Linked DNA regions of Homo sapiens: region 2 is linked to region 1. The links come from fine-mapping of genetic effects on gene expression. A gene starts in region 1. The other region holds a variant in brackets. All regions are shown on one strand. Distances are between the middles of the regions.

Region 1 (2,914 bases):
TAAATACATTTTTATTTAAGGAGGAATAATTCTTCAGAGCAAAATAATCTGAATATCACCTGGAATAGAGATTGGACAGAAAAAAGTGTGAACAGGGAAAACTAGGACAAGTCATATATGTAAATGAGAGTATAAAGAGTAAATGAGAGTGGTCACTGCTCACTGCAGCTTAACTAATCAGATAGTTAAGTTGCAGGCATAAAGTTTTTTTAACTTTTATTCCTCAAGTAATAAATTGAGGAAAATACAAATATGTACAAAATTTTTACAAAAGCTATCCATAAAAGGGCAAGTAGTAATATATAGAAAAGATCTACCAGATTAGTAACAAACTACCCCCATTAGGAAAATGGTAAATGATATGAATAGGAAATTCAAAAAAAGAAGAATTACAGATTTCCAATAAGCATAACTTAAGATATACACTGATATTGTAAGGAAACACAATCACCACAACCTTGCTAATCAAAGAAACTAATGATATTTATTGGAAAATAATGGGAATTTTTAATAGACTGGGTTAGAAGACTAGAAGTGTACGTCCCAAAATATTAATAGTTCAGCTGTAGGGTGAGATCACTGATTTTAATTTTCTCCTTTTATACATTTTTCCAGATTTCTCTACAGCAACTACGTATCATTTTGTAATAAATTTTAATTTTTCGATGCACAAAGCAATTGCCTGGAATTGCAGTTCGATATGAACCCAGGAGTTACGCTTGTAAAATAAACTATTGCTGATGTGACATTTCCATTTCTCAAGCAGACTGTAAATTTCTCAGATGTAGGTCATCATGTTATAATTAGGGTTCCATTGCTCATGATCTAGATGAAACACTTCTCCCTTTCTTGTGGTCTCTTCATTAATTTGGTCCCTACCGCAAAGGCAGGGGGATTAAAAATAAAATATCTTTTGACACTGGTTGGCAGGTGTACTAACACGTGTGCGGGAGGATTCCTGTTCTCGGCATGGTTCACGCCGGGCTCCGGCAGCGCCCTAGTACGTAAGGGGCTGCACTGGAGTGTGGACTGCCCGGTATCCTTAGAGAAAGTTTTGACAGTGTGACGCCAGTGTCGCCTCTAACCACGTACAAAACGCGCCATGCATTGGGTAGCTATTACAGTGCACATTTTTGTGCAGGAAGCTACCCCACCAGCGCAAGTATTTCAGAATCAAGATCGCACTCCCGTTTCCCCTTCTAGGGAAAGGATTCCAGATAAACACTGAGAAAACAGATTTAATATCTTAGGTCAAAACTCCAGGTCTTCCCATAGGAAGGCCCCTGGGCTGTCATTCTGAGGTGCCTATTTCCCCCGCGCCGTGTCCACGTCCACGAGTCCACGAACCCTCCGAGTTCTCTCTCCTCACCTGCCGAGGGCTCGCCCCTCTAGCCCCGCCCCGCCCCGCCCAGGACGCGTGACGTCACAACAAGCGCCGTGCGCCCCGCCCCCCATCGGGGGCAACCATTGTTCCGCCGGTCGCGCCGGAGCTGGGTTGCTCCTGCTCCCGTCTCCAAGTCCTGGTACCTCCTTCAAGCTGGGAGAGGGCTCTAGTCCCTGGTTCTGAACACTCTGGGGTTCTCGGGTGCAGGCCGCCATGAGCAAACGGAAGGCGCCGCAGGAGACTCTCAACGGGGGAATCACCGACATGCTCACAGGTTAGCACCGGGCCGGGCCCCGCTGGCTTTCTTCTTTCCTTCCAGCCTCTTCCCCTGCCTTCCTTCTCTCCCACACCGACAGTCCAGTGGGTAGGGTAGGTTCCTTGCAGCGGGTCGTCTTCCGTGGGGATCTCCCTCCGGCGCCCCTGGCTGGTTGTCAGTCCTGCCGGCTACACCTGGGCCATCGCTTGGGCTGCTTTTGGTCTGGCCCTTGGAGGAAACGGGTGGTCACTGTCTCTTAGAGGCTGCCATATCCCCTTCCAGAAAACAGTTCTCGTTTGTTTACTCGTGGTTCTTGTTCACCCGAGCCTTCTGTTGCCTTTCAGAACTCGCAAACTTTGAGAAGAACGTGAGCCAAGCTATCCACAAGTACAATGCTTACAGGTGGGACAGTGCAGCATTCTCGGGTAGCATACGTTCTGGGATACCCTGTTTAGTGTGGCAATTAACAGGACTGAGGGCCCAGTGGATATTTGGTCCATCTGCAAGAGCGGGAAAAAGCAAGAATCGAGGCTGGTACCTTACTATTTCTTGAAGAATGTGGGCAGTGCGTTATAGGATCAGTTCAGATAAGTTCCCAATTCTGATTGCAGATAGCTGTAGCCTGATACGTATTTTGTCATCATCAAACATGAATTACTAGAAATGCGGTGTAATTTTAACCGTAATGAAAGACAGCGGATGAAGTCCATACTGTGAAATATATGTGGTTCAAGGAATCACATTTTTTCTTTTGGTTGGTCTAAAGTTGATCCTGTGGGATCCTGATCCTGATCCTTGTTCCTTGTTCATGGGATCCTGTCCTTGTTCATCTCACCAGGGGCCTTATCCTATTCATTCTTTCCACATCCACCTGCTTCTACTCCTTAGCCTATATTTATTTATTTATTTATTTTTATTTGAGACGGGGTCTCGCTGTGGTATGATCATGGCTCATTGCAGCTTCAACCTTCCAGCCTCAAGTGATCTTCCCATCTCAGCCTCCTGAGTGGCTGGGACTACTACAGGCGCACGCCACCACACCCAGCTAATTTTTTTTTCTTTCTTTTTTTTTCTTTTTTTTTTTGTAGAGACCGGGTTTTGCTATGTTGCCCAGGCTGATCTCCAACTCCTAAACTCAAATGGTCCACACACCTTGGTCTCCCAGAGTGCTGGGATTCCAGGCATCAGCCTCGGTGTCAGCTCTCCTTAGCCTATAAATATGTGCAAGTCCCTCAGCTCTTAAAAGCAAAACCAAAACAATCTTAACTTCCCTC
Region 2 (2,914 bases), 61 kb before region 1:
TGGATTATTTATTTTTTTGCTGTTGAATTGTTTGAGTTCCTTGCATATTCTTGATATTAATCCCTTGTTGGATGGATAGTTTGCAAATAATTTCTCCCATTCCATAAGTTGTCTCCATAGGTTCCATAGGTTTATTCTGTTTTTTCTTTTGCTGTGCAGAAGCTTTTTAGTTTGATGTAATCTCATTTGTCTACTTTTGCCTCTGTTAACTGTACTTTTGAGGTCTTATCCATAAAATCTTTTCCCAGACCAATGCCCTGAAGCACTTCCCGTATGTTTTCTTGTTTTTTTTTTTTTGAGACAGTCTCACTCTCAGCTGAGACAGGTGCGATCTCGGGTCACTGCAGCCTCTATCTCCTGGGTTCAAGCGATTCTCCTGCCTCAGCCTCCTGAGTAGCTGGGATTACAGGCAGCGCCATCACACCCGGCTAATTTTTTTTTTTTTTTTTTTTTTTTGAGACGGGGTCTCGCTCTGTCGCCCAAGCTGGAGTGCAGTGGTGTGATCTCGGGTCACTGCAAGCTCCGCCTCCCGGGTTCATGCCATTCTCCTGCCTCAGCCTCCCAAGTAGCTGGGACTGCTGGCGCCTGCCACCACCCCCGACTAATTTTTTTTTTGTATTTTTAGTAGAGATGGGGTTTCACTGTGTTAGCCAGGACGGTCTCAATCTCCTGACCTTGTGATCCGCCTGCTCGGCCTCCCAAAGTGCTGGGATTACAGGCGTGAGCCACCGCACCCGGCCACGTGTGGCTAATTTTTTTTTTTTTTTTTTTTGCAACGGAGTCACGCTCTGTTGCCCAGGCTGGAGTGCAGTGGCTTGATCTCGGCTCACTGCAACCTCTGCCTCCTGTGTTCAAGCGATTCTCCTGTCTCAGCTTCCCAAGTAGCTGGGATTACAGGCACCTGCCACCATGCCTGGCTAGTTTTTATATTTTTAGTAGACACGGGGTTTCACCATGCTGGCCAGGCTGTTCTCAAGCTCTTGACCTCAAGTGATCTGCCCACCTTGGCCTCCCAAAGTGTTGGGATTACAGGCATGAGTCACTAACAGGCGCCTGGCCTGTTATTTATTTTTAAAAAGCCAAAAGCCAGCTTCCTCCTCCTGCCGGCTGAACCCCACACAGTCTGTCTGCACCTGCCTCTCCATCATTCCTCCCCTTGGCTGCCTCTGTTTTGAGCGCTGAGCCCTCTTGCCGGACAGGCCTCCCCCTCCTCCACATTCCTCCAGGACCAACTCTAGGCCATCTCCTCCTCATATGCGTCTGGGATGGCTTTGTTCTGTGGCAACTGGTTCTCCCGGTGAGTTCCTCTGGGCTGGTTCCTGTGCCGCCCTTCCTGTCTGCGTGTGGAGTAAGTCTTGTCAGGACCCTGCATTCCTGGTCAGCCAGGGCTGGGTCTGGCCTTTGGAGTTCCTTCAGTTCTCCTGTAGCAAGTGCCTGACGTTGTATATGTGCTAGGTGCCCCAAATCATCCACTCTGCCAGTCCACAAATATTTATCGAATGTCTATTATGTGTACATTGGTAATTAAAGCAGACCTTTGGAGAAGGGAAGGAGCCATTAGTCAACTAATTATAAATGTAAGCTCCTAAGTATGGTAAAGTGTGAGTTGGGAGAAGGACCCAGTGCACTGAGACCTTCCGTTGGGGTGGGATCAGTCAGTGTCAGAGGAGGTTCCCCAAGGAAGTGACACTTGAACTGAGGCCCTAGTAGAAGTCAGCTTGACAGAGAAGGTGG[G/A]AGGAGAGTTCCAGGCCAAGGGAGAGGCTCCTGAGGGGCCTCTGTGGAGGGCAGGTGTGGCAAGTGGGCAAGACTGAAGGCCAGCGTGGCCGGAAGGGAGGATGGGGCACAAGTGCCTGGGTGGCTGAGGGTGGACGGTGCAAGTCAGATCCTGTGGTGTTTTTTGGGCAGTTTCAGCCGAGGAGGTTTTGTTTTGATGGAGGAGCAGTGGAACGATGTTAGAGGGAGGCGCTGTGCCCATGGGGACAGATTGGGAGGGCCCAAGCAGTGGGCAGCGTGCTGGGAAAAAATCAGCTCTCGGAAGAAATGCCTTGATCCATAGTGTGCAGCAGTTCTCATGGAGTAGCTACTCCCACCAGGGCTGACTTCAAGCCACCAGTAGTTTAATAGCCCGCTCCGGCCTGATTCCTGAGTAGTTAACAACCAGCTCTCAGTGACTGCTACTACAGTGTCACTGGCTCCGTCCCAGTGATGCAGGCAGACCAGGTCTGAATGTTTTGGAGTCGTCTAGGTGAGAGATGGGGAGAGGTGGGCAGACTTAAGAGATATTTAGCCTGGTGCAGTGGCTCATGCCTGTAATCCCAGCACTTTGGGAGCAGAGGCAGGTGGATCACCTGAGGTTGGGAGTTCGAGACCAGCCTGACCAACGTGGAGAAACCCCGTCTCTACTAAAAATACAAAATTAGCCAGGCATGGTGGCGCATGCCTGTAATACCAACTACTCAGGAGGCTGAGGCAGGAGAATTACTTGAACCCAGGAGGTGGAGGTTGCAGTGAGTCGAGATCGTGCTACTGCACTCCAGCCTGGGCAACAAGAGCGAAACTCTGTCTGAGAAAAAAAAAAAGAGAGAGAGAGATTTAAGGGGTGGAATTAACAGCGCTTAGTGGTGGAGTAGAGGTGGAGGGGAGCAGGAGGAGTGGAGTGCCTGCAGGTCCTCAATGATGCCTACCCGTGAGCCCGGCCCAGGCCAGGAAGCTCTCTACCTTCCTTCCCCGTGGGTTCTCCCCAAGTTTGGGAAATCTCTAGGGCTGCTTTGGGTGCTGAGGAGAAGTCTTTGATCATTGTCCAAGTTCAGAAGATGAGCGTGTATGTTCTCTGTTGGGAACCCCTCTGTTCACAGCCTCTTAAAAGAAGCAGCTGGGCTATGGTGGTGTTGGTTCCTTGACTCTGATGGTTTTA

The links. PIP is the estimated chance that this variant, and not a neighbour inherited with it, causes the effect.
Region 2: its variant is fine-mapped to the expression of POLB in testis (GTEx, PIP above 0.99).

The regions. Positions count from the first base shown.
Region 1 is chr8:42,337,028-42,339,941 of GRCh38, forward strand. It overlaps POLB (DNA polymerase beta), which reads left to right and starts at 1,467. Exons shown (of 14, transcript NM_002690.3): 1 at 1,467-1,658; 2 at 1,985-2,042. The coding sequence starts at 1,598.
Region 2 is chr8:42,276,429-42,279,342 of GRCh38, forward strand. All of the region lies in intron 2 of IKBKB (inhibitor of nuclear factor kappa B kinase subunit beta), which reads left to right. Among named protein-coding and RNA genes, the nearest start is that of IKBKB, 6.6 kb to the left of the region's middle. The variant G/A (reference allele first, on the strand shown) is at 1,735.